Linked DNA regions of Homo sapiens: regions 1, 2, 4 and 5 are each linked to region 3. The links come from fine-mapping of genetic effects on gene expression. A gene starts in region 3. Each other region holds a variant in brackets. All regions are shown on one strand. Distances are between the middles of the regions.

Region 1 (6,710 bases), 68 kb before region 3:
CTATTGTCATTTCTTTGGAAAGAACAGGGTCAGATTAATTAGAATGGAGATTCACTGCATCAGAGGCTCCCTGACGCACTGAATGCCACTTGCTTTTCAAAGAGCCTGAACCGAGTCTTGGGATCTTTCCCAGATGCAGATTCAATAACCCAGGAAAGTTACCTGGGGCAGGCTTTCTCTGCAACGGGCTCCTGCAGGCAGAAGGAAAGCCGAGACCTCAGCTTTTCTCATATTGCACAGAGGCCCTTACTCACCGTGAAAAATAACACCGGCACTGTGAGGATCACAGCAACAATGACAGCCAGCCGCACTGTCAGGATGAGAATGTCATCTTTACTCTGATATTTGTGAAGGAGGTCGGACTGCACGTTGTCTAAAATGAGGGAAAAGCAAGAGGGTTTTAAAAGGAGACAAAGTATATAGCTGAATGACAGTTTTTCTGAAAAACAAAGAATCTGTAAACTAAAGGGCAAGAAAAGCAATGTTTCGAAATGTCTATTAAAACAATCAGGTTGGAAAGAAAAATCTCTATGTAAGACATGCTCCACTGTGCATACGCGACTTAGCAAAGAAATTTAAAGTAATCACTGGAAGAAGCTACATGGAGTGGGAATGCTTAATTTAGACTAAATTAAACCTAGGAGTACACTGGGCTCGAGAATGAAACATACAGTTGAAACGCGAAGCTGCTCTTAATCTAGACTTTCCCTCCACTCTTCAAACCACACCAAACTGCCACAGGCTTGCTCAGGGAGGGGGTGGGGTGGGGAGAGCTACAAGCCACCTTGGAGCTTGTTTCAAACTCTTCTCTTGTTAAGTCAACTTCAAGTGGCCAAGCAGCAGAGACACTAGTTGAAATTTCACCATCAGGAAATAATTCCACTCTTTCATGTATGTTGTTCTTGTAAAAAAAAAAAAATTAGTTTATGTACTACTTTGTGTGTGTGTGTGTGTGTGTGTGTGTGTGTGTGTGTGTGTGTGTGTGTGTGTTGAGACAGGGTTTTGCTCTATCACCCAGGCTGGAATATGGTTGCCATAGTGCCATTTTGGCTCACTGCAACCTCTGCTTCATGGGCACAAGCAATCCTCCTGCCTCAGCCTCCTGAGTAGCTGGGACTACAGGCATGTGCCACCATGCTTGGCTAATTTTTGTATTTTTTTTTTTTTTGTAGAGATGGGGGTCTCATTATGTTGCCCAGGCTGGTCTCGAACTCCTGGGCTCAAGCTATCCACCTACCTTGGCCTCCCAAAATGCTGGGATCACAGGTGCAAGCCACCGTACCTGGCCTTATGTACTACTTTGAACTTTTTCTCAATCCAGAACTTCAGAAAGTGTTATTTCAAAGACTAACAAAGCTAGAATGGCAGTCACATAGAGTATGGAACTGCTCACTCTTTTGACAAGAGGTAATTTCCCCTCCTGTCTCCTGCAAGGGCCTCTCACTGCACCAGTCTCAAGGTCCTCAGCATGGAATTCAAATGCTAATCTGTACCATAGAGCTTAGCTTGGTCTCAGTTTCCAAAAAAGAACCATAAGTTATAATACCAATCTCACTAGTTCTAATTTCCTTAATTCAAAATAACTAACCACTTAAAAAATAGCTAATCCTTTTTCTTTAATCCAAGAGTAATAAAAGTGTTTGGTGTTCTATTCTATGTGAAAAATAATGCATCTACAAAGAAAAATTATAGCTTCAACAAGACAACAGTGAGACTTCAACTAACATTAAGTTCTCCGCCTCTCTCTCCCTGTACAACTCTGTATGCACCTTAGCAACACCATTTTTATGTAAAAATTAAATGTGGTATTTATGAATTCATTAGACAATGCCATTCTCTATTGCTAGTGAAAACAATAATAATATCTGTATAATCAGAGTAGCCTTTTTCTCCAGGCTGAATTAATACTTTTTAAATGTGTTTAATTTTGAGACATTTGTGTTTATGAAAAAAAGTCCCAAAGAATTATTATTTAGTAGAGAAGATTGTGAAATACATACATATATATATATATACACACACATATATATACACATATATATAGACACACATATATATACACATATATATATTTAAATTAGGTCCCCAATTATAAAGATAATGAAAGATATTAAATCAAGCTTCAGGATAATTTGAATAGGAGAGGATGAAGAAGCAGTAAACGCCGGTAAACTGTTCATTCAGGGTCAGTAAAAGTTACATATGAAAACTTGTTCCCTTTTTCAGATTTCATTTTTTAAAATTTTCTATCATTCCTTTGGATCTTTGCAAGGCTTCGACTTCCAGTGAACAATTAGAAGTTTCATTTTTAATTAACTCAGAGTGTCATGAGTGTAGCACTCTGCTCTTTCTCACTTTCAGCATCTGTCTCTGTCTCTCCATTCTATTAATGGAATCTGACCCAATTTGCGGTGTCAATTAGGAAAGCCTTCTCTGATGTAGTTTTAAACCTTCCTCAGTAAAGGTAGCATGCTTCTAAAATGCAATTTCTATTAAGGACACTGTTAGGAGAAAAAAATTATAAATATTGTTTGAGTAATTATTTTATTCGGCAGTCTGCATGAACATGAAAAGATCACCATTGCTTTAAGTCGAAGAAAAAACTAGAAAAACCAATGGATAGCTTTGTTGCTTTCTTTGCCTTTCATGTTAAAAGTTATTTCAACACTAATTTTTACTAATTTGTTTACAAATATTTATATTTATGTACCAGTAGAAATTACTTACCATAGAATGTCAAGTAGCCAAAAATGGCAGTCAAGAAGTACATAACAAACATGGCGAAAAAGGAGATGTTTGAAACCATCTGCATTTTTTTCTGTGATCGGCTAAAAACAAATAAATGTTAAAAATTAAAAATCATATGACTGAATTTAAGCACCAGTGTTAACATTGAAGAATACTAATTTAACTTTGCTTCTGTCAGGTTAGGGAAGATCTGAACAGCTGAAATTACCCCTGGCAGTTATGCCAGTTGAAAATAACCTCTCTTATACTGAATTGGTATTGAGGGTGAGATCTGTGGAACTACACTCCCGTTAGCGTTCTTCCCCATTCTTTTAAAAGAATATCGAGTTCTCATCGGAAGGGCAGACAGCATTTTTTTAATATTTGTGCTTGATATTATCTCCACACTAGCTGGGCAAAGGAAAAAAGGCAGAAAAAAATCAATGCTGTTCTCCTAGCTCCAGAGATTAGTGGCAGAGCTGGAACTTGACCTCAGGTGTTCTGTCTCTAAAGCTGCTGTTTCAGGTTCTGATTTTCCCATTGGGTGGCCTCAGGGATGCACCTGGAAGTCTGTAGGTCTCCAGCGCAGCAAGTGCCCAAGAGATCACAGCTGGAATGATGAAGGGCTCCATCTCTCAGGTCAAGTTCACTCTGGGGTTGGGATGACCCTCTAAGTTTCTTTAACTGCCCAAACAATTAATCTGCAACACTTGTATTCAATAAATAACAGACCACAGATAGTCATAACATTTGGTTATGTCAAGGAATCTAGGATGCCATAGAAGTATGGAAAACAAGAAAAA[C/T]GGAGAAGTAGGCCCCGCGCGGTGGCTCACGCCTATAATCCCAGCACTTTGGGAGGCTGAGGCAGGCAGATCACCTGAGCTCAGGAGTTCAAGACCAGCCTGGGCAACATGGTGAAACTCTGTGTCTACAGAAAATACAAAAGTTAGCTGGGCATGGGGCATGTGCCTGTAGTTCCAGCTACCTGAGAGGCTGAGGTGGGAGGATTGCTTGACCCTGGGAAGTTGAGACTGCAGTGAGCTGAGATCACACCATAGCACTACAGCCTGGGTGACAGAGGGAGACTCTGTCTCAAAAAAAAAAAAATAAATAAAGAAAAATTGAGAAGTATACGCTTGAGAAAATTAAAAACTAAAACTAAAAGCTGAACTATTAAAAGACGCCAAAGATATATGAGTGGATTCAATGCTAAATGACATCAACTTTGTTTCAAACTGGAAATAAATACTGATATTGTCGATCTTTTCTAAGTTTTTAAGATACGCTATTGTGACTATTTTTGTTTATGTTTGATAACCATAGGCTAAAAAGAGACATGAAGAAGTTTATAAGCAGGCCTTAATTTTCTCAAAACCAGCAATCAAAAATAAATCAATAAATCCATAGAATTTTCTTAATAGTTAAAAATGAACAGCAATATTCTCTTTTCCTAGTTTGTGGTCTTAATATTGATTTCTTATTGTCTGATTTACTAGCCTTTTCACCCAAACCCACAGGCAAATCAGAGACGATGTATTTAGCAGTTTACAGATAAATCTGAAGATTATCACCCACTTGCAAAATACGCATACGTAATGGAAAGCAACACAAATACTTAAACTTTCCTCGGTGATACAATATTTGAAAAACCAAATTAATGAAAAAGCCCACATGGTTGGCTACTTTTTATGTTTATGGCCCCCCAAAATACTGCAAGTTTCTGATTTTTCTTGCTTTCTTGTTTCTTAAAATACAATGCTTGTTTAAGAATGGCACAATGTGAGTAAATGTTGAAGCTGGGTGATGAATCCGCTGACGTTCATTAGACAAGTCCGTTTATTTTAATTGCATACTTGCCTATTAATGAGGGGATGTAAAACGATTAAGATAAAAAATTAAACAAATTTCTTACTCTTTAAGCTCACTGTAAATTGGCAGGACTGACGGGTGGCAAACAAATGCAAATGCAATGGTGGGTAAAGCATACACGGTCTATTTGAGAGAAAAGAATAGACATTAGGAAAAACACTTTTACCATAAAAAGGACATAGCTCCAGTATTTCTGAGCTGTCTTTTTATCTGACAGCTCTTCAGAATCCCTGGATTATTCGGTTATTAGGGAGGTTTTGATCTCTAAAGTAGAAGCAGCTTTTCTAAGACAGCTTGTCTAGCTCGAGCCATTAGCCACTTGTCACAGAGGGACTTCGGATTTGGCTCACCTATGGTGTATTTTATATACTCCAGGTATACAACACCCCCTGTTTATACAGCATGAGCCAGTTACATGGCACTCTTCCTAGGATAGCTCGCTGGGTCCCCACAGCAATCCCAAGCAGTAGGCAGACTGTGGCTGTTCTCCTGGCTCCCTCCAACAGGTCAGGCGACTGGCCCAGCACTCCCACCTCTAGTTTACTGCTCTTCGCTCTACATCAGGTGCATGGAATCGGACTTAAAAGATACCCTCTGAAAAGAAAATCTGTTCCATATTGCACTACTTTGGCTATATCCTTACAATCAGAGAGAAGGAGAAAGATCGCGATCTATTTAGTTTTCTTAGATAAGGCTCTTTGAAACTCTCACACTCAATCTAACTTCCTATGCAAAAAGAAGTGAAAACTAACCTATCTTATGCCCTAACTCTGCTGATGCACTATGCCAGGCACATTCTAACAAAACCTTGTAAGATACAGAATAGAATACTTATTTTTACTCAAGGGGTTGGGTGACTTGCCTGAGGATTCAAATCCAAGCCTGACTGACTCCATAATCCTCTGTTTCCCATTGTATCAACAATATTTTAATAGTATGAGAGTTTTTTAAGTGCCAGTTTGTGGTGGCATCTATATTTCAACTGTGCAACCTGAGGAAGTCTGCAGTATTCCTTTCTGTCATCGCCAGAAGAAGGGAGCTAAGGATGTTGTTAGTCTGTTTTTGAAGTATCACCTAGCACTCTACACAGAAAAAGCTGAGACAATTATCCAGAATGGGATTTTCACAGAGAATGCTTAATGGTAAGAGAGAGTGTAAAATATAATATTTGTATATTTCTCAAGGATCTCTACATAGATGTGTAATCTGGAAGCAATGGTATCATGTGTTCTTTTGAGAACTAATACATTCAAACCAGTGCAATTACAAGCATGAGAAATAGAATGTCCTTAATAAAAATGCTTGTTTCATCTGCAAAGGATCAGGAAACTTACCTTTGAATTGAAGGTAACATATTTTGGCGTACACGTGTCAGCATTTGTTGAATTAGCACTTATTGTTGAATTTAGCTCTGGAACAATGCAGGGAATTTGAAATTTCTTGTAAATAACCTGGTATTAAGAAGTATAGTAGAAGCAATATGGACTTTAGTAAAGCCAATGAATAATTATTACATGCCATTGTACTATCACAAAACCAAACCAACCATTGCAATCAGCACTTACCACAATTAGGAAAAAAACCATACAGCTCAAGGAAAATCCACTAGTATAGCCAAGATACCCTTTAAAAAAAAGTAAAAAATAAATTATTTCATTTTTTTCCATTTTTAAAAATTTTGGAGCTACCCATCATAAACTGTTATTATTTCAAAATTCATCACCTCACTTATTTCAGTGCATTATTTGAAGCATATTTTAGAGATCCAATAATAAACATACATGCCCAAGTGAATACAAGATTTATTATTTGACAGTGCTACTTTATTTGGCAAAAAAATGGGGCTCTGAATAGAAACATTATATTACGTGTTTTGATTCCAACTCTCCCTGGCACACTAGAGAACACAGATTCCCAGAATCCAGCAGAAAAGAGCCTTCCAATTTTTGCTGTAAGTCTGTGTTGGTGGACCCTGATGGAGTCCTATGGGCAAACCCATTTACTCCTTGATCCCCTCAATAGCTCTTTATTATGCACTTATTGTGTGCATACTGAATGTCAGTTATAATACTTTTCTCCCCAGATGACAGAGAGTAGATGAAGCGAATTTCTAG
Region 2 (6,710 bases), 58 kb before region 3:
AGGTCTGGTGTACACCATTAAAATACATATTTGATTTAAAAAGATCCTAATAGTTGAAACAAAAAGATTCCTTTTGAATTAATGACCTGAACTGATTAGGCAAACAAGGAATTATCTTAATAACATCCCATCAATGCCTCCACGTTCTAAATGTAATAACAAGCTTAGAAACATTTTAATAGCCACGACATACAAAACCTAATTATTCATAAAATGTAGTTCAAATACATGCAACTCACAAAAGAGAGCAGAAGACTAATCTGTCAAAAGCATAATTTGTCTGTAGCAAAATTTGAAAGTGTTCGACTAGCTCATCTCAATAAATACTGAAACTCTAAAGCATTCACTTTTTAAAAAGTGTTTATATTTCTTTATAACTGTTCAGTTCATGTTTTCAAAAGGTTCACGGAGAGCAATATGGGACAGGCTATAATTAAACCTTTGTTTAATCTCTCATAAGACTGGTGTTTAAACTAGACAATGGTTAGCTCCTCAATTTATTATAAAATGTTCCAGTTAAATGGAGTCATGTATATACAATAATAGTTGACCAATGTGGTTTTAGTTAATGTAAAAGTCAAAGAATTACAAACATAATCCAGTGTCCCAGAAATAGAAAATAAACACTTCAGGTATTACACTGCCCAGAGTACTTGAAGTCTCTTCATAGCTTGCTCACTCCCACATTGCCTCAGGAGTAACACTTTCTCCTTGGAATATGCACAAGAGAATGACAGGTCTGTTTACTTTTAAAACCTTGGAAGTTATAATATAAAAACATGGGATCTTTGTTCTGGATTTATAAAGACCTAAGGAAAAACAAGCTTTTAAAATGAAGTCATTTTAAACCAGAAAAACAGGTATAATTGAGGGTTCACTTTAAGTGACAACATTATTTTCTCATTGTCCATGACAATTTAATTTATATTTTGCTGCAACTGTTTCTCTAGATAAATACTACTATAGGTCTTCCAATCACTCTAGGTCAAAATAGTCTTTCTTTTTAATAATCAAATTGCTGTACAGAGAGAACATCATTGTTCCACAATGCTACCATAAAAATAATTCACCCTGGTTTTAACAAAATCAAACACGTCCTCAGCTTACCTGTTTCTTTTGAACAGATCAATAGGAGGTTTATTGAATATATAGACAGCAATGTCACTGAAGTCAAAAGTACCCTAAAGCAAAGAAAATAAATCTTATTGTAATATCTAGAAAAGAATATATTCTGGCATTACAGTTTAGAAGGGCAAAGGTTTATTTGTATGGTTAACACTATTTGTTAATAGTATCCAAATTTTGGAACCTATTAGTCATCCCTGCTTTAAAATCCTCAACAAAAATGTCCTACCAAATAAAGAAGTGCTCATTAGAATCTGAGTAACAGTTCAAATCCTTTATGTAATTCGAAGCCCAAATAGCTCTCTGGGAGCATTTCGGTTGAGATGACTTTAAAACAACATTATGAAAGAAGGCTTTTGTAGTCTATGTTGCACTCTCTGTTACATCCGGGTGAGAAAGTGTGAGAATGGGGTGGGAGGGGCGGAGGGAAAGGCTGGCAGTGACCTTAGGAGAATGACCACCTGACTTTGGGCAACTTGCTTAACATTCCCATCTCTGGATTCCTTGCCCATAATATAAAGATACAAGCCAAATGATGTCTAGGGTTCTTTTCATCTATTACTTCATGGCTATTTTAAAATCTATATATTGGGCTACTAATGTAATTCACTTTTTTTGCACCTGGTTCCTCTTAGATGAATAAGCACCACTTGGTAACCAGTGGGAAAATTTGACAATCAAGTATAATGAAAAGACTTTTTTGAATGATGAACTCATGTTTTTGTTTTAGTACATCTGGGTCATTATCACACCCTTCTCAAGAAAAAGTGCAGTTAAAATGATGTGGGAGATTATATAGATGATTTCTGAAACATTTGGTTAAAACAGACATGATAATTGAAAATAAAGCCTATTTATTAAAAAAGAAGAAAAAAAATCCAGTCCCCAGATGAAACCGCTCACTTCCTGATGTGGGAAAATATATCCCTAGAACAATACATAACTGCAATTGACTCTATGTTTGAGTCATGAAAGGCAATTATTTTTCCACCAAGTGCTGTTGAGAGGCACTTGGCACATCATGCCGTTCGCTCTGCGTGGGCTGCTTCCTCCTGGCCCTTCCCCCTCCCAGCACACCTGTTGAAGGCTGCTCTAGGCCCCAGCTCAGATGCCAACTCCTCAGTTGCCTTCCCTGGCCCCAGGCAGAATGACTGCTCCTCAGCTGTCTATGATCCTACAGTGTTTTGTTTCTCCTGCATACGGGGCAACCATGAGGAGATAAACCAGGAGTACAGAATGGTCAACAGCAGAACAGATGAACTGCCAGAAACTGGCCAGCAAACAAAAGAGGGGCAGAGCTCAGCAGAGGCAAAACAAACACTAGGAGAAAGAACAGACCTAACACTTTGGGTAGAGGCCCAACTGATCTGCCAATAAACAGGAATTTAGGTTAAGATATGATTGGTAAGGAAGTACATTCAGATCTATACTTATTTCCCTAAAATCCTTGAGTGAGGAGGCTGATTGATATGGTTTGGCTGTGTCCCCACCGAAATCTCACCTTGAATTGTAACTCCCATAATTTCCACGTGTTTTGGGAGGGACCCGGTGGGAGATAATTGAATCATGGGGGCAGTTCTCTCATACTGTTCTTGTGGTAGTGAATAAGTCTCATAAGATCTGATGGTTTTTTTATAAGGGGAAACCCCTTTCACTTGTCTCTCAATTCTCTCTTGTCTGCGGGCAAGTAAAATGTGTTGTTCGCCTTCCGCCATAATTGTGAGGCCTCCCCAGCCACGTGGAACTGTGAGTCTGTTAAACCTCTTTTTCTTTATAAATTACCCAGTCTCAGGAATGTCTTTATCAGGAGCATGAAAATGGACTAATACACTGATTAAGAGGGTAGGTCTCTTATCTCTTCAGGTTGAGGGATGTGAGAAACGGACAGCAAGCATTTATTAGCCAACCCAGTAGTTCTGAGATACGTAATGGAACAGGATTTGATATGCTCTGCCACAGAATAAGATATGGGACCTAATTGTGGCATGATTTTTTTTCCCGTCAAGTAAGATAAGCAATATTTATGTCAAAGAAGCAAGCTTTCGGTTTCTTGCAGAGTTCACTTGTTTTGAGGGACACAATGCTAAGTAGCCACTTCTACACGAACATGTGACAGGCCCTAGAGGATTTCCGTGTGGCACAGAAGAGCACAGGCTTCCTAGTGGAGTAAAATGAGTGACATCTTAGGATGAGCCAGATGCTATTCTGGAATGACTATGTGCCCTGTTGGGTCTACTCTGCTAGGACCAAAGGGATTTTCCCATGGGCCCAAGGCTAATGTATAAAGAGTATGACCTTGTAGGAACTATCTATGTGCCTAGCAGGAGGGGATAATTATGAATATCTACACAATTATTTACAAAAGGCCCTAACCCTGGAGAACT[T/C]GGTATTTATTAGCAAAAGAAACATTCTAAGGAAACATTTGCTGTGTTCCCTCAGTCAGTAGCCTCTGCAACCACGCGGTTCTTGCACATGGTTGTGTCTTAACACAATCTATGTGTTGAATCTCTTTGCAGATGATGCTCAGTGGCATCTGGCCCTTTGAGCATCATAAACTGCTATCCCCCCTTTTCAAGCCGGAGAAAAGTGTTGATTAGGGAAGATTTTAGTAGTGTTCACTTATCTTCTTCCCCCCACTTAAACACAACAGAATGAGGTGCTCCCACAGTGGTGAAAACAACCCCCTCCCATGTTTAAGAGACGTAACATTGCACCCCAGAGTACTTAGAGTCTGATAGTTTTTGCCTTTAACTGTCTGATCTGCAAAGGATCTCTTCTTAGTCCTTTCCCAAATGTAGATCTTCTCTTCCAAGACTGAAAATTAATATAAAGCAAAACCCCCTTTTCTATCAGATCACTAAGAGGCAAACTGTAAAAGTAAAATTCTAAGAATACTTTAGCCTATACAAGAATCTGGCATTAATAGGATTAAAATTTAGAAAAGTATACCTCCTTGTTCAGATTCTTAGAAAGAAGGAATATGTTGTCTAATTGACTCTAATAGAACCTAGAAAGGGTTAGAAAAATCAAATCATAAATGTCTTGAGACACAGAAACCATGACATCTAAGAGAAAGAAGAAAGAGGAATAACTGGAGAGAAGGTGTTGACTTGTTTGAACACTTCTATTTAGAGCATGATTATGCCCCTAATTGTCCGGGTAGATATTTGTACATATAATTATGGTTTCCTGGAAGAGAAACACATGCTGGGATTCCTGTGTTAACACAGAGGAACACAAGTGATTCCTTTTTAAAATTTCATCTGGATATAATTTAAGCTTCAACATTGTTAACCACTGACCACAAGTATTAATATGGCTGGGACAAAAACTGGTTGCTAAAAAAGGCGTACTTACATGGGGACTACAGATCAGCAATTGATAATAGGGCTGCCAAGGTGTTGATATTTCAGACTTATGTTCATCTTTGAGGAGAAGATCTAGAGCATGTAATTGTACATGGGTCATGGGGAAGGGGTGGCAAGAGAGTTAGAATTGCGAATAATGTGGTCAGGAGCCTTCAAGAGTCTTTGAGTCAGCAACATTATGAAAGATGTGGTTCAGGACATTCTAGTAAATTTTGGAGTCTCCTGAGAAGAAACTTAGAATTCTAGACTCCTGAAGCAGGGAGAGACTTTCAGAGAGAACCTAGTCCAGCACAGCATGTTTACCCAGGACAGGAAACCTCTATGCTCCATGCCAACACACAGGCATCCAGGTCTGCAAAGTGTCTTTTAAAAGGGGACATATTATGCAACCCATTCTGTTTCTGAAAAGTTCTGTGCTTGGAACTGAGGCTCAGCTGAAATCACTGTCGCTACTTCTATCCTTGGGTCCTCATTTTACCTTCTGGACCTATTTGTATCTACTTGAAATCTAACACCTCTCCTACCTAACAGTCCTGAGGGTGCTCATTTTAAGATTGTGCTCTTTAACTCAAACATCTTTAATTCTTTGAACTGTTCATCTTGTGATGAAGTGTTTGGGCTGTTTACATCTCAGTCATGGTCCAGTTCCTCAACCATCCTTTTTAAAGGCTGTGTGCTGAGATGAACACAATGCTATAACATCAGATTTGGTCCAAACAGCGCAAAGCATGATAGGATTTTTAATTTCTCTGAGTCAGACATCTTTCTTCTTTCAAGGTAATCTATTTTGGAATTCATTTTTACGGCAACCACACACTTTTCATTCTTTTTGAGCTTCTGGTGTGAATGCTACTAGGCTGTCTTCCTGATTCTATCTTGTGTACTTTTTTTGTCTGTTTCTGAAGCTAAGTGCCAGTCCTATATTTATTTACATTACATTTTATCTTTCAAGTCTCATGATCTCTTCTTAAATTGTTGATCCTTTTTACTTATATATCAACCACTGCATCTAACTTCATATCTTAAGTGTACCTTCATCCAAGTCACTGGCATCAACCTTGAATAGAACAAGACCATCTGGAAATGGCCCATTGTCCAGCCAACTGCTTGAAGCCTGGAAGTCGACCTTATCTCTCACCCATTCCCTCATCCTTTATATCTAGTTCATTGGCAAGTGCCCTATCATTTCTATCTCCAAAATTTATCCCAAATCCATAGGCATTTTGTTCCCATCTCCACTCTAGTGTGAGCCATCGTCCTTAATTTCTGGATAACTGTGATCATCTTGTCTCCTCACATCCGTCTTCCACCCAGCAGCCAGAGTAATCTTTTTATTTTATTGCTTTATTATGTGTCTCCATCACTAGACTGTAAGACAGACAACGACAGTTTAATTCAACTATTTACCTATTTACCTTCAACATCAAACACACACATAACAGAGTCTTCGCTGAGAATCAGTGAATTTAGAAACATTAGAACCTCATTGGCAAGTTATGTGAGACTATGCCAAATATCTTAACTAAAATCAAGACTCCCTCTATGAAGATAGTCCCATGATCTACTTAGCTCACTGTATCTCAAAAGATGATATTAGTTTAGTGACTATTTAGAAAAACTTTGTTGGTTTCTACAGAGTAATCTTTTCTGCAGTCATTGCACATAAACAAGCTGTTTAATAATTTTCTCTACACTATTCCTTGGCATCTACTTTTTGCCATTTTTGAAAGTTGGGATTAAATTAGCCTATTTCTAATCCTCTGGGGATACTCTTGCTTTCCATGATTTTTAAACAGATTCCTGAGAGTATCTTAGACAAAGTGGCATGAGCAAAAAAAGAAAAAATGAAAAAGATTTGTCACAGTGGTCCTAGATATATTTACTCTTTTTGCTGCAAGAAAATTTTGACTCATCTTTTAAACAACGAACATCTAAACATCGATTTGAAAAACGTTATTTGTCAATGTTTTGAATCATATTAACAGAATTGTAATTATTTGGTCTTCCATAATTTACCCAAAGATTATATGAATAATGTTATTATTTTCATATTTAAAAGTACCATATGCTAATAAAGTGGAAAGCTGTGACAACAAATAAAACCAAAACATTTAATGTGATTGAAATGTTCTATACCATGATTGTGGTGGTGATTTCACAACTGTATTTGGGTAAATTTAACAAACCTCACCCTTTAAATTGGAGAATTTTATTGTA
Region 3 (6,710 bases):
CCTCTATATCTGTTTCATATGTCTCCAAGTCTAGGTAAGGTGACAGGGACCTGAACTTGGGCAGTGGAAATGGAGACAAGAGGACAAGTGTGAGGGGTATTTTCAAGGGCCTGGTCACTGCTCAAAGTGGGAAGGGCAGTACGAGAAGGAGAAGCAGAGAAGAAAAAGACTCTCATTTTCAAACTTAGGAGAAGGGGAACAGATGAGATATAGAACGGAAGGGATGGCCAATAATATCACAAAGAGATGAACAAGATGGCCTGATCAAGGTCTCAAGGTCTCGATCCAACAAGTATTTATTAAGCAGGTACTATGTGCTGGACATTAGAGGAACAATGAGTAAAATCGGTTTTTGTCCACAAGCATCACCCAGAGTAAAGAAAAGAGTAGCAATAGTCAGATATCAGAAACATGGTGCTCCTTTCATTAAATGGCCTTAATTCATGAAGCATCATAAAAAATATACATAAACAACATACATATAGGTTTAAAGCTCCAAAACACCTTTAAAATCTATTCATCTATCTGTTCAATTATATTACAGTCAAAGAAGAGTGCAATAAGTACTTGCTGTTCCTTCTTCCTGTTCCTTCCGCTGGCCTTCTTCCCTCAATTATGGAAATAGCTGATCCCTTTTCATCATTCGGGTCTGAGGACAAATGTTATACCCTCACACCGCCCCTCCCGGTGAGTCACTCTATTTCAAGCATCCTCCCCCATCACATGATCCTGTTTTATTTCTTCATTGCACTAAGAATACCTGAAATGTATATGCCTACATTTATATAGTCTATTTCCCCCTGAGAACGGAAGCTTCATAGAAGGTGAAACAAATCTTGTTAGTTGCTGCCAGTCGCACAGTAAGCCCTCTGTAGAAAATGTTTATTGGCCACATTTTTTTAAAAAGCGAATAAACCTCAAGATTAAGACCTCAAACCAAACTATTCCAGTTTCCAATTGCTTACAGCGACATACTGAGAAATCGAGTGACTCTCAAGAGAAAGGCCATTTTGAGGCTGGGGTCGAACCAAAATCCAGGGGGTCCACACCAGGTCAGTACCCCGGAATTGGCTGTTTTGCAAGATTTCGGGAGTACCAAATTGGCATGAGACATTTGACAACGAGGCCAGCCATGCACCGAGCTCAGGTTTTATTTCCGTTGTCCTTCTGACGTCAGAAAAAGCACGAGTTGCTGCACAGTTTCTTTTATCAAGGTGACAAATTACACCCTCGCTGGGCCCTGCATTCTGCAAACCATAAATTTATTTTCCTCCTCCCCCTTATATTGAAAAATGTAAAAACCCACTGCAGAGAGGTCAAAACCCCTTCCAAACGCAAATAAATACCGTTTTCTAGCAGAGGCGTCTTTTTTCACTTTTGCTACACACATCACCGCGGATTCGTCCGAGAAAGTACGTGATCCTGGCGGCAGTTAGGTTTCTAACAGAGAACGAGGGTTTGTACAAACCCCGGGTCCGCGCCGCAGAGCAAGACAAAGGACTCTGAATTGTAGCACCACCTTCCCCAGCCCAAGGCAGCCTGTGAAAGGCACTGGGAGCGGCGTGACGCGGGTACCGCGAAATTCCTTTTGCTGCCATATGCACTTGTGCCTTCTCTAACTACAGTTCAGCACAAACCTCAGGCGGGCGATTTGGCAGGCAAACGGTGCCCAGGCAGCCGGGTAACCTACTGGGTCCCAGTGGGTGCTGGGGAGCCCCATGCGCCAGGAGGTGGATAATTTAGGGGGCAAGGGGCTCGCACAAGGGCGAAGATGCGCTCTCCTCCCGGCACCGACCCACGCGTTTAAAGGCCTCTGCGGCAACGTTTAGGGACGCGAACTAGGTGCCGGGGGTTGGGGAGGAGGTGGGACTGGAAGCGAGAGCAGTCTGCGCCCAAGACCGCGCAAGAGGTGGCCTTTTGTTCGCTGGCTCCAGCACATCCCGGCTCTCGAAAAAACACTACCTCTGTCCCCTGCCACCCTCTGCATTTTAGAAAATCCTCTTCAGGGCAGGAAAGGACAGTGAGTCACTGCAAGCATCCTTTAGTAATTTCTCCCCGCGCCCTCCTACTTCCCCGCGTTACAGAGGGGCAGAGCACCAGGAAGGACGGCAAACATGCCCCGGTTTAGTGGTGGTCCGCGGCCGCTACCCAGCCGGCCGCACGCAGCACCCCCCGGACATCACACGATCTCCTCTGGGCCTTGCGGACACAGGAAATTTTCACCAAAGGCCGGGGATTCAAACACTCCCAGAACACGGTCGCGCCCTCGGGTCAGCTGCGCTCTCCCTCCAGACGTGCGTGGTTCCTGGCTCTCGTAAAAATGGAACCAGATCTGGTACCACACTCTGCCACAGCCACAGGAAAACACACCAAAGTCACAGGAAAACAAACCAAAAAGTAAGCCACAGCCCACGCAAAGGTGAACTCGGGGGCCCTGGCGCTTCCTCCCGCTGCCGCGTGCGTTCGGGAAGCACAGGAGACCTGGACTTTTCCTCTCCTAAAAGCAACATCCGAAAGCATCGGGCACAGCCGAGCTCTCTCTGCTTTCACGCCCGCAGAGATGATTTCTACGTTACCTCCTCCTCCGACATCTAAATCTCCCCTTGCCGCTCGCCCAGCCCTCCCCGGGAACGGATAATCACCTTACCTCCGGAAATAAAGGGAAAGGTGGCAAAAGGCGATGTGGAGGTGTCCGCCCTTCCGGGGTTTTTACCCTCGGCAGTTTGATGTCCTTTGTGTCAAGGTCTGGCTGCGGAGGCCGGGAAAATGTGGCCCCCGTCAGTAAGGGTTGGGCAGGGAGCTTGGCGTGGCCTGGCGGATTTCGGAGGAAGGTGAAGGGCGGAGGCTCCTGGCGACCTTCTGGCGGAGTGGCGTGGCCGCCCCAGTCCGCGCTCGCCTGGCTCTCCTCCTTTCCGGGCCGATTGCATCAGAATCTCCCCTCACCACCAACCCCCACTCACACTCTGCTCGCCGGCCTCGCACTTACATCGACATGCACCGGCGCTGAGGGTCACGAATCGGAGTCATTCTCCTACTGGGGGACGCGTGGCCCTTCCGCAACCATGGCTTGTGATGGTTTAACGCGGACAGGCCATTCCTCCCCGTCCCGCGCGCGGTCTCCTCCCCTCCTGTGCGCCCGCTCTTTAACCAAAGCTGCGTGTCAGTGAGCCGTGCCGGTCACATGGTGTCACTGCTGGCGGCCGCACCTTGCTGCCTCCCTCTTGCAGCTCTCTGACGATGCAGCGACCGCGGCTGGCGGAGATTGAGCAACGGGGAAAGGGTGAGGGAGGGGTTGCGGGGCGCGCGTGTGCCCGGCGCACTGAAGCTGGCACCGGGAGCAGAGGCTGCGCGCCGCCCTGGCACCTGCCCCTCTCCCTCCCGGGGCCCGGCGGCGTGTTCGGAACCCAGCTGCGGCTGCAGCTGGAGAATGAGAGCCCTTAGGGATGGGGGTGGGGCGGCTAAAGGGGCACCGGCGGAGGACAGGAGGGCTGTGCGTTCCGCTGGGGCCTGCATTTTGGGTACGCCAGAGCCCCGCCGGGGCCGAAGGAGCGAGGGAGTTGCATTGTGGGAAGGGCGCAGCATGAGGATGGCCGCGGGAGTGGCAGGTCCGAGCGCAGCCCGGAGAGCCGCGGGCAGCGCCTGGGACTACGGGCAGCGTTGGAGCGGAGGGCTGGCCCTGGGCACAGCCTGCAGATGGCCCGGGTTGGCGGGAAGGGGACCGAAGTGGCAGGGGCGGCGGGGAGCTCGGGCACCTTTAAAAACCCTTTGTCCCTAACCTGAAGCGGGAGGCACCTCCCCTCTTCCGGATCCAGCACCCGCAGACCTGGTCAGCCCTTCCTGAGATCTGCCCTGTGGAGCTCTGCTTTGGGGACTGGGTGTGAGGTGAACCAGAAGGATTTGCTGAGCACCGAGAAAGCACCGGCCTAGGCGCAAAGAGCCGGGGGCCAGCTCTTGGAGGGCCTGGAGACCCCACGTGGTCCCGACCGAAGGACCTGGTGCGTCCAGGTTAACGGAGCTGGGGCGCTCCAAGTCCGGGGGACGAGGGAGCGGCATGGAGGGGAGCAGGGGCAACTGGGCCTGGTTCCCTTTTTTCCCGCTTACTCTTTGTTTCAGACACAGCCCCCTTTCACTGGCTGGGCACTTGCTTGCAGAGGAGTTGTGTCTTAAAATGGCGACAGGAAATCCCACCTGCGCCTCAGCCAATTAGACTGTCATAGCGCGAATTTGCAGGGTGGAAACGCGAGCTTTTTATTGATAGGGAAGGTTCAGTCTCCTGTTCATGGTTCATCAAAACAGGAAAGGGAAGGTGAATCATAATTCAAAAATTAACTACCTGGAGCGTTTCAAGTAGACAGTAGTCATTGTATTTGGGTGAATTTTGCTTTTTCATCACCACTGGAAAAGCAAGATGATAACCAAATTTGAAACTCATCACGGACTAAACTTCTTATTCCCTTCGAATGGCAGTAAATGGCCTTTATTAGTTCAACAGTGGCTTCCTGAGAATCCTATTTAGAAGGCATGCTCTTGAGAAATACTGAAAAACAGAAAGTTCAGAGCAAACCAAAAGGGCAAACACATGGGCAGCCTAGCTCAGACAGACCTGCATTCAATTTCTTCCTCTGACACTTACTGCTTCCCTCATCTGCTTTACTTTTGTCCTAATCCTGTTTTCTAAATTTGTGAAAAAGGGGAGAAGAGTACACACAACATAGCAATATTCTATAGGTCATCAAAAAGTTGGTTCTTTCTACCTTACTAGAGGAAGCTAATTTATTGTGAAATTAATGATTTTAAGTAGTGTGCACCTTGCCTGGCACAAATAATTCTTATCAATAAGGTAAGAAATCTGAATAGGTAAAGTAGATGAACTGTGAGCCATAGCTTAATAGGCCTGTTGGAATATTTACCTTATTAAAGGCAGAATGTGTATTCATCGCTGTTTGGAGATTATCTGAACCAAGCTTGTCTTTTGGTTCCAATTTTAACTTACTTGCTAGTTTCTGTATATCAAAACGACTGCAGTTATTTAGCACTTTTTGAATTGGAATCAACAGTTATGAACTGAGCTCCTATGATATGGCAGCTATTGTGCTAAGGACTTTACATGTAAATATCTCATTTAAAGCTTTCAATCCCTCAGTTGGGTATTATCCTCTTTAAGAAAACAAGTACAAAGTTGAATTGGCCATGTTCACCTAAGACAGTAATTAGTGAAGGGGAAGCGATTCCCTTTCAGGTCTGAATTCAAAATCCGTGCTCAGTCTTCACAGTGGTGCTACAACCATTTGCAATCAGACATTCTTGGGCCTAGAGTTAGAAGGATCTTCACCCCTTCTCTGGATTTTAGTTGACAACCTAGAACCAGAGTAAACATCAACATGGAGGCTGCTGTTTTCTCAAATTGAGGCCAGGGATGTCTAGATGATTCCTCTATTCACTGTGTGCTTACTGAGAGACAAACAGCAGGTTAAACACTTCACAGATGGTCTCTCGTTTAATTCTCATGACATTCCTGATAGGGCAGCCTATCCTAATCCCTGACTCAAAGGTTAGGGAATTTATCCCAAGTCCACACAGCCCTAAGTGGCACATCCAAATCTTGCATCCAGAGCTGACTGGTAAGCCAGTTTTCTGTGGCTGGATCTAAAACGTTCCCTGATTCTGGAATAACCATCTTTGGAGGGTTAGTGGGTGGAAGGGGTCTCGGGCCACTCTGTCTCTGAATAGGAACCACTGCCCTATTTCAGTAGAGTCCAGGGAGTTAGTTTTCTCAGTAATAGGGTTGTGAGGTCCAAGAGACTTGTCGATAGTATCTAATGTTATTTGTGGACCTTTCCCATTTGAACAGATTTCCAATGTTATTAAGGTATTCAGGACACATTACCAGGTTTGACTGCAGACTGCCCTATGGAACTGAGAAAATTCTGTATCTGCTCTGAAAGTGATGCCAGGGAAGGAATTTGTACTATGAAAATAGAATTGGGTAGCTTTAGGTCACCTGAGAGTTTTCTTGTAGCCCCCATAGCTTGTTTTTGTATGGTTCCAGGAAGGTGGGGCAGCTTTGTGAAGAAAAATCAATTATACCCCAAAGAGGATTCAGCCTGAGCTTAAGCCACATCTGCTCTCATCCCAGCTTCACCCTGTACTCACCCGGGTTGCACTTGCTCCCTACCTGGGTTGCCCAGTAGGACAGCTGCAGAAGGGGCCACTACCAGCTGTGCGCTTACAGAGAATATGTGTTTTCCTGCACTGGTGTTCAAAGCTTTCCAAATACATCTGGTTTGATACCAGCAGTCTTCTTGTATAAGAATTTTTGGGTAATAAGATCAAAACTATTTTCTGAATACAGTGTTTTTTAAAAATCTGTGAAGGACTATCAGTGGAAAATCTGATTTTTAACGATGATGAAAAAGTAGGAAAGTCAGCTGGTGAGATTATCTCAGAACAAGTGTCCTGCATATCTCCTACTTGTAACAGAAAACACTGCAGCTGTTAGATGAACAAATCCAATCTCACTAGAAAATAAATTGTTTATTCTGCAGTCTTTTGTTCCTATTTATAGGGTCTACCCTAAACAACAAATGGTCTTTAAGATTACTGGTTTTCCTTGACTTTCACATTTCTTTGCCTGATTAACCCTTTTTATCATCCTTGATGTTCTTTGAATCTCATCCATAGATGACAATATTTTGACACTAGAAATTAGT
Region 4 (5,861 bases), 130 kb before region 3:
ATAGACATACAAGGTTTTCCTATTCCTGTATTCAGGATTAATGTGCCAAATTTAGAAAGTCAAATGAGGAAACAACATATTAAATGGTCAAATAGACCATTAGAGTATAAATGTGTTAGATTCTCTGGGAGAGGCAATAAATAATGCCCTCACCCTTCTGAGTTGGGAATAAACTGAAAGATAGAAGATCAATATCTCAGTTACTAATAAACGTGATTAGACATCACAACATCTATCTGTGGCTAGACAAGCTTCCTGATTTCTTGTCCCTGAACAGAGTTCACCCATGTGGACACTGGCAGGGCTGGACCTTCGCATGCTGAATCTCCCTCCCAGGGGAAGGCCACTTCCTGCATGTTGGAGCAGAGAATGTGTTTGTTCTGGTTCAGGCCATTCTGAATGACAGGGACTGAAAGATACAGAGAGACAGAGGCTGTGCCCTGCACCCCACAGAGGCTGTGCTCTGTACCCCCAGTTCATGCCTCATAATCCCAGTTCATTAATTGAGTAGGTCATTTCATTTCTCTTGGGCAGGTATGATGACAGGGATGGGAGGGAAAGAAAAAGCTCTTCTTTCCAACACCCAGAAAAGGCAAAAGCTTCTATTTTATGTGTCACTATAAAAAATGTTGAATTGTGGAAGGGAATGGTTTTCCCTGCAATATATTTTATTTTAATTCCCTTTCTTATCATTTACTTAAATCAGATGTTGATCCTACAGTGCCAGGCATTTAGCTCCATAATGCTGTTGAATTGAACAATTGTAAAATTGTGGCAAAGTTTTTGAATTCTTTTATGAGAAGTGGTGGTGGTCATGGTAGTATATTTTATCTAAAGACATACCTTAAAGATATGCCAAGCAGTTAAAAAAAACTGTTAATAAAGACTCTTATATCTCCCAAGAGTAAAATATCAGACCCTTTTGAGCATTTTCATCAAGCAATCAGTTAATTCATTGAAAAGAGATAATCAGATAAAGCATTTGATTGAAATGACTTAGTGTTTAGCTGAATTGGGTAGCTGCTTACAAGCATTGACATCAGTTCTGTTGGGGTTGTTAATCCAGCAGCCCTGCAGAGACACAGAACCACTCTTTCTTTGTCAAGCCACAGCATAATAAAGTTTTGTCTTCATTTTCCAGTTTCATGTGGAAATGTTTAAAAGAATGCATCGTCTAAAATTTTTCTTAATTGTAATTATGATACATTATCCCTTGTACAAAGCAGGTTGAGTATTTTCTTTTGGGCCCTAAGATAATTTCAGGCCTTTATGTATCCTCTGGCTTTTCCTGAAGGTCCAATCAGGCCAAATGAGAAACAGATCTTTACATTAGATTTGTTTAATAAACATGCTGTTCAAAGAATGGCCGTTATGTAAGAAGTATCACTCTTTGAAAGGCTGATTTAGGGGGTCTCTAGATTATGTTGAAATCCAGTCTAGGTTGGTGGTGATTGGCCAATGACATCTGCAGATTATTTTCCCATCCACAGGAAATGCGGTGGTCCCTTCTCAGCATCTCAGGGCCTTCCAGCTGGTACCAAGTGTTACCATTGTTGGCAAATCCAGCAGGAGGCCAGGGACAGGGTAGTCACTGCTGTGCTCCCATCTCTGTGTGCACTCGGGTGAGGAAACACTGTCACACCATTGTGAGGAGGCTTGTTACCCTGCGTGTGTGGCCCCCAAATCAACAGTACCAGGGCACCTCAGCTTTGGTGTGAACTGCCTGCCCTGTTCACAGGCTCCAGTCCACACATCACTTAAATCAATGCATTTTGTCTTTCGCTTGTTTGATGGACTTCATTTTAAATAATGTATCATTCCCCAGGTCCCACTGAAAAAGTATTACATTGGCCACAGTTTTGGCAGAGACTATGATTACTAAGGCTGTTATGCTGAAACAGTCCTGTTACAGAAAGCACCTAAATAGGCTGTTTACTGGGAATAATAGACTCTGGTTTGCATATGACTTGCATTAAAGTTGCATGTTGGTCACTTATAGTCAACAATCACAGATGTCTCCTCACACTGTAATGCTCTTTCTTCTCCAGACTCCTTGAACACTCTACTTTTTTAAACTTAACCCTCCTTTGACTCTCTGTCTTCTTCACTTGAAAAATCATTTGTAGGAAGGGCTCTGACTAGAACATTGACATTTCACAGACAATACAAAGATGACAGACTATTGAAAACCTACAATTTTATTAAATAAAGTTTTTAATTTTTAACTTTTGTGGGTATATAGTAAGTATATGTATTTATGTGGTACATGAGGTATTTTGATACAGGCACACAATGTGTAACGATTATATCAGGGTAAATGGGGTATCCATCACCTCAAGCATTTATCCTTTCTTTCTGTTCCAAAGAGTCCAATTCTACCCTTTTATTTATGGTAAAATGTATAATAAATTATCGTTGACTATAGTCACTCTGTTCTGCTATCAAATACTAGATCATATTCATTCTATCTACTTTTTTGTACACATTAACCATCCCCACTTCCCATTCCCCCATTATCCTTATCAGCTCTGGTAATCATCATTCTCCTTTCTATATTTATGTGTTCAATTGCTTTAATTTTTAGCTCCCACAAATAAGTGAGAATATATGAAGTTTGTCTTTCTGTGCCTGGCTTATTTCACTTAACATAATGATCTCCAGTTTCATCTATGTTGTTGCAAATGACAGGATCTCATTCTTTTTTACGGCTGAATAGTACTCCATTGTGTGTGTACCATATTTCCTTTACCAGTTCATCTGTTGGTGGACACTTAGGTTGCTTCCAAATCTTGGCTATGGTGAATAGTGCTGCAGTAAACATGAGAGTGCAGATATCTGTCTGATGTACCAAGTTTCTTTCTTTTGAGTATATACCTAGCAGTGGAATTGCTGGATCATATAGTAGCTCTACTTTTAGTTTTTTGAGGACACTCTAAACTGTTTTCCATAGTGGTTGTGCTATTTTACATTCCCACCAATGGTGTACAAGGGTTCCCTTTTCTCCACATCTTTGACAGC[A/G]TTTGTTATTTGCTGTCTTTTAGATAAAAGCCATTTTAAATGGGGTGAGATGATACCTCATTTTGGTTTTGATTTGCATTTCTCTCATGATCAATGACGTTGAACACTTTTTCATATACCTGTTTGCCATTGTATGTCTTCTTTTGAGAAATGTCTGTTCAGATCTTTTGCCCATTTTATAATTGGATTATTATATTTTGTTTCTTTAGAGTTGTTTGAGCTCCTTATGGATTCTGGTTATTAATCCCTTGCCAGACGGATAGTTTGCAAATATTTTCTCCCATTCTGTGGGCTGTCTCTTTACTTTGTTGATTGTTTCCTTTGCGATGCAGAAACTTTTTAGCTTGATGCAATCCCATCTGTCCATTTTTACTTTGGTTGCCTGTGCTTGTGGTGTATTACTAAACAAATCTTTGCCCAGACCAATGTCCTGGAGAGTTTTCCCAATGTCTTCTTTTGGTAGTTTACAGTTTGATGTCTTAGATTTAAGTCTTTCATCTATTGGGGTTTGATTTTTGTATATGGCAAGAGATAGGGGTCTAGTTTCATTCTTCTGCATATGGATATCCAGTTTTCCCAACACCGTTTATTAAAGAGACTGTCTTTTCTCCAATGTATGTTCTTGGCACCTTTGTTGAAAATGAGTTCACTGTAAATGTGTGGATTTGTTTCTAGGTTCTGTATTCTGTTCCATGTCTGTTTTTATGCCAGTACCATGCTGTCTTGATTACAATACCTCTGTAGTATAATTTGAAGTCAAGTAATGTGATTACTCCAATTTTGTTCTTTTTGCTCATGATAGCTTTGGCTATTCTGGGTCTTTTGTGATTTCATATACATTTTAAGATTTTTTTTCTATTTCTGTGAACAATGTCATTAGTATTTTAACAGGGATTGCATTGAATCTGTAGATTGCTTTGGTTAGTATGAACATTTTAACAATATTGATTCTTCCAATCCATGAACGTGGAATATGTTTCCATTTTTTGGTGTCCTCTTCACTTTCTATCATCAGTGTTTTACAGTTTTAATTGCAGAGATCTTTCACTTCTATGTTCATTCCTGTTATTTGAATTTATTTGTAGCATTGAAAATGGGATTACTTTCTTGATTTATTTTTCAGATTGTTCATTGTTGGCATATAGAAATGCTACTGATTTTTGTATGTTGACTTTGTATCCTGCAACTTTACTGATTCAGGTCTAACAGTTTTTTGGTGGAGTATTTAGGTTTTTTGAAATATAAGATCATATCCTCTGCAAACAAAGATAATTTAACTTCTACCTTCAAATTTTGATGCCCTTTACTTCTTTCTCTTGTCTGATTGCCCTAGCCAGGACTTCCAGTACTATGTTGAATAACAATGGTGAGAGTGGGTATTTTTGTCTTGTTCCAGATCTTAGAGGAAGGGCTTTCAGCTTTTCCCCATGCAGTGTGATACTACTGTGGGTCTGTAATATATGGCTTTTATTATGTTGAGGTATATTACTTCTATACACAGTTTTTTGAGGAATTTTACATGAAGGGATGTTGAATTTTATCAAATGATTTTTCAGCATCAACTGAAAAGATCATATGGTTTTTGTCCTTCAATTTCTTTCCTAATTTCTTAATTGACCCAGTGGTAATAAAGATCATATTGTTTAATTTCCATGTGTTTGTATAGTTTCCAGAATTTCTCTTGTTATTGATTTCTAGTTTTATTCCATTGTAATCAAAGAAGATGCCTGATATTATATCAAGGTTTTTTGAATGTTTTAAGACTTGTTTTGTGACCCAACATATGGTCTATCCTTGAGAATGATCTAGGTGCTCAGGAGAAAAATGTGTATTCTGCAGCCCTTGGATAAAATATTCTGTTAATATCTATTAGGTCCATTTGGTCTATAGCACACATAAAGTCCAATGTTTGTTGATTTTCTGTCTGGATGATCTGTCCAATGCTGAAAGTGGGGTGTTAAAGTCTCCAGCTAGTATTGTATCGAAGATTATCTCTCTGTTTAACTCTAATAATATTTGCTTTATATATCTAGGTGCTTCAATGTTGAGTGTATATATACTTACAATTTTATATACTCTTGCTACATTGATACCTTCATCATTATATAATAACCTTCTTTGTCTGTTTCTTCAGTTTTTGTCTTGAAATCTATTTTGTGTGATACAAGCATAGCTACTCCTGCTCTTTTTTTTTTGGTTTCCATTTGCATGGACTATCTTTTCTTCATCCCTTTATTTCCAGATTATATATATGAAGTGCATTTTTTGTATGCAACAGATCATTAGGAGTTGTTTTTTTTAACCCATTCAGCCAGTCTATAACTTTTAATTGGAGATTTTAGTCCATTTTCATTATAATTACATTATATTATTGATAAGTTAGGACTTATTCCTGCCATTTTGTTATTTATTTTCTGGCTGATTTCTGGCCTTCTCTTCCTTCTTTTCTTCCTGTCTTCCTTTCTCTGGTGGTATGTTTTGATTTCCTGCTTTTTATTTTTTTGTTTATCTGTTTTATGTTTTTTGATTTGAGGTTACCAGGGAGCTTGGAAATAATATCTTATAACTTATTATTTTAAACAGATGATAACACTGATTGCATAAACAAACAAGCAAAAAAACTAATAAAATTTCTACACTTTATTACTCTGCTTTTTAACTTTTGTTGTTTCTATTTATATATTATTGTACTGTCTATGTCTTGAAAAGTTGTGTAGTTATTATTTTTTATTGGTTCATTTTTTGTCTTTCCACTCAAGATATGAGTAGTTTACATACCACAATTAGAATGTGATGATATTCTGTGTTTTTCTGAGTACTTATTATTACATTGAGTTCTGTGC
Region 5 (6,710 bases), 86 kb before region 3:
TTTTCACTGAACTCTCCCCCACCCCGAGTTTAAACACTGTGACTGAGTTACCTTTTTGACAGCAATGTAGTTATTTGCATAGGTTCAACAAGAGTCTTTTTCTTTCCCGGTGCATAACTGGACAAAATTGAATGTCACCATGGCCTTACTTGGAAGATCATATGTGAGGATGATGGTCATTTAACAGGTATGTCAAACAACTCCAAGGAACAAAGGTTAATTTTATTTCTGTAGCCAATGCCTACAAAACCCTGGCTTAGTACCAACCTTCTAGGGTTGTAACCTAGAGCCTAGTACCTAAACTGGTCTATAGGATCCTATTATGATGGGTGGTGACAAAGAGCACTTCCTGGCAGGCCATGAACCTTAGTAAATTTAAGCGACCTCAAGTAGAAAGGAATTCATCCAAATCTATAGATGGTATAGGTGAATACGGTGGAGTCTCTCGGGCTTGCTTTCCTAGCCCTGAGCTAGCAAATGATGGAGACTTTTTCCCCCTCAACCCATAGAGACTTTTAAAAGTGCAGTTCTGTGGCTCCAGTAGCTGTTCAATAGTACATAGCTCTAGAATTGCAAACCAAATTCAAGGAAGCTTATGTGGTTAATTAACACCCTTGCCGCACCCATGCAAATAATCAGGCCAAGGCTAATGGGACCATTCTTTTTATGACCAAGAATAATCTTTGAGATTTTTATAGTCACAAAGGGGAAGTTGTTACGGAAACTGGAAAGACTTTAAAAGAAGCAAAAAAGATTACTGGGTGGGTGTACTTTCAACGAAATATTATATGCTGCTTCTGGGTTATCTGATTCTATAAGAGTTTTGCCTCGCACCCCCTTTTTTTGTTTTTTGAGCTACTTTATAACCCTCTAAATTGTAGAAAACTGAGAGATGGAAATGATTATTGTCCAGACATACAAAATAATTCTGTCTGATTAAGATGCAATTAATTAGATGACGAGTTAGTGGGTGCAGCGCACCAGCATGTCACATGTATACATATGTAACTAACCTGCACATTGTGCACATGTACCCTAAAACTTAAAGTACATTAAAAAAAAAGATGCAATTAATTTCCCCCTGTGGACAGGCCAGTTTTGCATCTATTAGCAAATTCATTTTAGAATTCCTGATTGCTGATATATGTATCTGTTCTTTGAGTTCTCCTTTGGACCAATTTTTAAACATATTACTTGTTCCTTAATTAATAAGCTAACTAAATTTTTTGACACATACTTTATTTAAGTCATGGTTTCATGCTTATAAAAATAGATATATTTACACATGTGTTATTTAAAGTCTTTAATATATCTAAGTTCTCTTTAGACATAAGGGGTAATATAGAAATCTGGTTTCATTTTCTTCAAAAACTATGTATTTTTTCCTATCATTTATTAAGTAACCTTTATTTTTCCCCATTGATTTGAAAGGCCACCTTTCTGGTATTTTTTGGATCATTTATGCATTCACTATTATGATCTATTTATTTATTTGTACCCAGTTCAATTCTAAGTGCTATGGCTTTATATAATTTGGGTAATTTGTCAGGTTATTTTGGTGGTGTACTGACTCTCCCAATGAGCAGATTATTCTACCAACTTGGATTAGCCTAACATGTAAACTAATAAAAGATTTTTAAAAATTGATATTCAAAAATTGGCCTAGTTATTTGGGCCTCATCCACCCTTTCCAAACTAGGTAGAACACAATTATAAATCTAGAAAGTAAGAAAACAGGACATCTGAGTTGCAAAGTTATCATTAAGCCCCGTGATGGTTAATATTAGGTGTCAACTTGATTGGACTGAAGGATGCCTAGATAGCTGGTAAAGTATTGTTTCTGGGTGCATCTGCAAGGGGGTTGCCAGAGGAGATTGACATTTGAGTCAGTGGACTGGGAGAGGAAGACCCATCCTCAATGGGGGTGGGCACCATCCAATAAGCTGCCAGCATGGCTAGAACAAAGCAGGTGGAAGAAGACGGGCTAAGCTGGCTTGCTGAGTCTTCTGGTGTTCATCTTTCTCCCATGCTGGGTGCTTCCTTCTATTCCTCCTGCCTTTGGACATCAGACTCTAGGTTCTTTGGCTTTTGGACTCTGGGACTTACACCAGGGGTTTGTTGGGGGCTCTCTGGCCTTTGGCCACAGACTGAAGGCTGCACTGTCAGCTTACCTACTTTTGAGGCTTTTGGACTCGGACTGAGCCACTACTGGCTTCTTTCTTCCCCAGTTTGCAGACGGCCTATTGTGAGACTTCGCCTTGTGATCATGTGAGCCAACTCTCCCTAATAAACTCTCTTTCATATATACATATATCCTATTAATTCTGTCCCTCTGGAGAGCCCTAATACAAGCCCATAGTTAATTCCATGGGAAAGGCAGAGAATAGCTCTTCCCTGACAATTCTGTGTAAAAAAGGACGGAATGGAACAGTATTAGCAAATACTCATGGAGGGAGAGTAGAAGGAAGAAGCCAGAACTATCAAAGGCACTGCAGGACTGGCCCTTTCAATTTGGAACAAAATCTGCTCAGATTCTCAATAGTCTTTTAACTTTTACCACTGCTTGAGTTTAAAAGTGCTAATTACTCACTCACACCCTTTGCCCTTGGGGTTTTGATCAATTAAGAAGTAGGCATAGGAAGCATGTAAGGATAAAAATATCAGCTTTATTCCTAACGAAGTTATATTGGAGAACATGACTTGGACTCCCGTACCCCAGGTTTCTACTTTGAGTTTTGCGTGTGTGCCACCGAGGCCCTACAGAATGCACTGCTGTCACCTGGGTAGGCCAGAAGAGTTCATCAAGGGGGTCTTCATTCCCAGCCACACCGTAAAAGACCCAGGCTATTCCTGTGCTAGCCCTGTCCACAAGAAGAACTTGGATATCAGACTTTGGCCATCTTGCTGGTCTGGTAAAGCCTTTCTAAGATGCTGGAGAGGAGTTGGTGATGGATAAAAAGACAAGGCTGCACTAGCTTTGACCCAATAGTTACTGAGAAATGAAGTGTTGATAGAATTTCTTCTTTTATAGGTGGCAGCAATGTGGGTAGAGGAAGACTCAACTCCTTCCTACAACACAGGGCAGAAATTAATACTTATAAAGGTAAACTTGACTTAAAAAAGAAAATATTATGGTGAATCTACTCTGATTATGAAGAATGGAGAAATGTGGTATATGTTTCAGACCAGATAGATTTCTATCAGAAGTATTTTTAAAAATATTTACGTTAGGGTGCTTAAATATATAACCTTCTATGATCTAGAACACTGACAAATATGTATAACCCTTCTCCAGCAATCCTGAATAGTGTATATAGTACACAACTGCCCCATTTTAGTATTGCATTGCAAAAGAACAAACACAACATTTTTAAATACTTTTAGTTCACATTTTTTAATGTTTAAAAACTATGTTAACAGAGCAGTTATAGAACAGAACTTCTTATATTTCTTTATTTACACCACACTCTGAAAAAAAAAACCCAGTTCTATTTGATTAACTATGAATAGCAAAGTTTTGTGACTTGTGACTCACTTAAATCACCCATCTGAAATTCATTTACAAGGTTTTTACATTAATAAAACAGTAGTGTGGTACAT[G/A]TATTGGACTCAGATGAAGTCTAAAGTACACTGGACTCTAGAGAGTGGATTACATACCAACGACCAAGATTCAAGTGTTTGGGGAAAAAAATACCTTAGACAGTCTATGTTGGCGTCAACACTAAAATAAAAGGCAAACATGCAGGACTTTCAAAGCTTGATTAGATAATGGTTCTTTGTTTTCTTTCCTTCAAATTTGTGCTCATAATTAATATTCAGGTTCCCTCTCCCCGCTTTCATAGATCCCAAAGTTTGAGAAATGCAGCAATTCAATTGTGAAAAAAACATTCTTCTCCCCAGCTTCTGTTTTCATATGTACTGTGTAGTGGTATCAGTGTTAAAAATGGAAGATCATTATGAAGAAACAATTTGTCATTTGGGTATATCTGTTTCTATAGGACAAGGATTTGTGTCTAAATATTCCTTACTTGTATCTCAGAGGACTATCTGTTAAATAATTGATCTTAATGCCAGCATAAGAAATCAAGGGAACTATTTCTCAGACATTTCTTTCTCTAAATTAAGTAGGGTTTCAGGTTCCAAGTTTACATTGAGAGAACTATGTTACCTGGGAGAGAATGTAAATTTTTCTAATTCCCAAACAAAACCACTAATTTCTAGGAAACATTTATTGTTTATATGCAGATCCTAGAGACTTCTATTTCAGTGCAGATCAACAACTTCAAAAATATACAGCCTCCTATTTATTTACAATAATATTTACATACAAATGAAGTATTTCCTGCAATAAGCCTCAGCTGCATAGATTCTTCCTTTAAAAACGTAAATTTGAGCCTGTATACAGATGGGCCCAGTTTCATAGCCCTTCCTTAGATAAAAGCCTAAAGAAGGAAAATGTCTGCACCTTGTGAACTTTACATATTTTGCAAGAACTTTCTCTTTGAGATTTAGTGATAGTTTTTAGTTGTTAGACACCCCACCTTCAGCTTGTACCTGAAAGCTTTATCTCGTTATAAATAATTCACTGTAATTTAGGGGAAGTATGTCCTGTTGCTAAAGGATTCTCAAACCTGCCATCCCCAAGGAAAATCATGTATTAGTATTGCTAAATGATGGTCTGTATATTCTTTGTTTTGAAGGTGGCTAGATGTTTGCTGTAAACTTGAATGGGAGAATTATATTCTTAAAGTTTACACCCCCTATAAGCCTAAAGCCATTTAAATTGATAAACTGAGAGAGACTAATAGATTTTGCTCTAAGGTATAAAATCCATTATCTGATCATATTCCTGACCTCCCCCCGACTCCAACTAAATGTGCCATAGTCCAACACTGTGCCTCACTGAATTGGAACTCAGTATTTCATTCTTTTGAGAGCAGTTTGTAGCTCCTTAAGCAGAGCAGACCTTTCAGTAGAGAATTCGCTTTAAAAGGAGGACAGGATTATCACCACACGATTAACACAAACACTGGAGAACTTCTGACACAAATTCAGTATTTCTTCTAAGTCTGCATTTACAAAGGGTCTTTTATTTTAATTTCTTTCACAACTGCCTCGCCCCAACCAAAGCCTCACTTTCATTTCCTCACAGCTTTAAAAAATAAAATATTATCATGCCTCAGCCCGAGGTAACACCGAGTGCAGGCAGCCTGTGTTTAGGAATTTGCACCTGCGCTGCTATTTTCAACGAGAAGGGGATAACCAGGTGGCAGCGCTGGATTCACTCACTTTCTTGCCATTGCAGAGACCCCTGCCGCCAGGCTCCTTTCCTCCCCTCCCTAAAGCCTGGCTCCTGTATGTTGCACCATGAGTCCTAGGAATCATCTGGTGAGGGAGGACTAATGGGAAGTAAAAGGGAGACTCATTGGCTTAGGGTGGTTCTCAAACTTGATGCGCTTTAGAATCATTTGCTGAGTCCCTCCCTGAGAGCTTCTGACTTCACCATGTCTGGGAGGGGGCTGAGAATCTGCATTCTAATGAGGTCCCCGATGATGCTGATGCTACTGGTCTAGGGGCCACACTTTGAGAACCACTGGCTTAGAGGCATGAATCAAGCTCTAGAAAGCAGTCAGTTCCAGGGTAATAGTCTTAGGTGCTCGCCGAAGCACTGAGGAATCTTACCACAACCCTGTGTCCACCACAAGCCCTATCACCATCACCCATCTGGGTGCTTCTTTTTCTCAACAGGGTCTGTAACTGTAAAAAAGGAAAGTGGGTGGAGAGGTTTTTTTTTCCCCCTTTTTTCTTGTTTTCTAACCTCCCAGCTTATTCCTGGAGAGTTAAAACACAGTTACTAGCACTAAAAACATTAAAAGTGCTGCGCGCTGGCCTCAATGACTGGTACATTGGAGAAGCTATGCAGCAGCATCCTTTTCTGTGGTGGGCAGGGCAGGAGATGAACCATAGGAGCCAAAAGTCAGACAAACAGAAGAAGGCACACCAAGCCTGAACCCTCCGGACAACAGCAGAGTTACCAGCTGAGGGATGTCCCTGGAGGTTTCTGACCCATGAGAGGCCCCCTCACCCTCCTTCACCCTCCTCCTACCACCAAGCTCTCCAGCAGTCATGGACTTATTCCTCCCCGTTTTTACTGGACACCATGTTTCAGGCCAATCTGGTCACCTGTAGTCTGGTGGCATCTCTACCCCTACTGTCCAGTAGGTGGGATGTGGCTGGGATGGACAGTCCAGATTCTACTAACAGGCAACTCTGAACAAACACCCTCCCTGGAAACAATATTATATTTGATGGTTAGATTCTTTAGCAAACCTATTACATTATTCGATGTCAGCTAACCTATTGGTTTGATCATCTTTTCCAGCTGCTCTAGGGGCCTAACCACCATGGATAACCTGGTCTCTAAAGGAAAATACATTCCAGGTTGCAAACAACCAACTGACAACCTTTTGGAATATGATCTCCTTATACACTGGGGCTGCCTGTGCCTAAACACAGTAGATTTCCCTCCTGTGCGTATTTCATCAGCCCCACTTCCAATAAGTAACATTAAGTAAATTAGGGATTGACAGTATTCTGTGTTACAATAACTAGAGAACAGTTCTAAGTCCAAAGTGTGGAACTGGCACTGTTCACTAGTATAGAGATCCTACCTACCAAAGGAAAACGTGCTGCTCCCCATGCCTAGGGTA

What was found.
Region 1: its variant is fine-mapped to the expression of SLC38A1 in monocytes after LPS (Fairfax 2014, PIP 0.94).
Region 2: its variant is fine-mapped to the expression of SLC38A1 in whole blood (TOPMed, PIP above 0.99).
Region 4: its variant is fine-mapped to the expression of SLC38A1 in whole blood (INTERVAL, PIP 0.99).
Region 5: its variant is fine-mapped to the expression of SLC38A1 in whole blood (INTERVAL, PIP 0.97).

What each region holds. Positions count from the first base shown.
Region 1 is chr12:46,198,371-46,205,080 of GRCh38, forward strand. It overlaps SLC38A1 (solute carrier family 38 member 1), which reads right to left. Exons shown (of 17, transcript NM_030674.4): 10 at 6,162-6,220; 11 at 5,931-6,047; 12 at 4,640-4,719; 13 at 2,728-2,828; 14 at 255-373. Among named protein-coding and RNA genes, the nearest start is that of SLC38A1, 67 kb to the right of the region's middle. The variant C/T (reference allele first, on the strand shown) is at 3,531.
Region 2 is chr12:46,207,947-46,214,656 of GRCh38, forward strand. It overlaps SLC38A1 (solute carrier family 38 member 1), which reads right to left. Exons shown (of 17, transcript NM_030674.4): 6 at 1,108-1,181. Among named protein-coding and RNA genes, the nearest start is that of SLC38A1, 58 kb to the right of the region's middle. RefSeq lists an enhancer at 1-57. The variant T/C (reference allele first, on the strand shown) is at 3,510.
Region 3 is chr12:46,265,879-46,272,588 of GRCh38, forward strand. It overlaps SLC38A1 (solute carrier family 38 member 1), which reads right to left and starts at 3,165. Exons shown (of 17, transcript NM_030674.4): 1 at 2,648-3,165. LOC105378248 (a long non-coding RNA gene) reads left to right here and starts at 3,193. Exons shown (of 2, transcript XR_001749101.1): 1 at 3,193-3,280. RefSeq lists enhancers at 656-1,639, 2,565-2,624, 2,623-3,605, 2,745-2,794, 2,845-2,944 and silencers at 3,355-3,534, 3,615-3,714.
Region 4 is chr12:46,136,129-46,141,989 of GRCh38, forward strand. No RefSeq gene overlaps it. Among named protein-coding and RNA genes, the nearest start is that of SLC38A1, 130 kb to the right of the region's middle. The variant A/G (reference allele first, on the strand shown) is at 3,019.
Region 5 is chr12:46,179,688-46,186,397 of GRCh38, forward strand. SLC38A1 (solute carrier family 38 member 1) reads right to left here. Exons shown (of 17, transcript NM_030674.4): 17 at 3,376-6,710. Among named protein-coding and RNA genes, the nearest start is that of SLC38A1, 86 kb to the right of the region's middle. The variant G/A (reference allele first, on the strand shown) is at 3,601.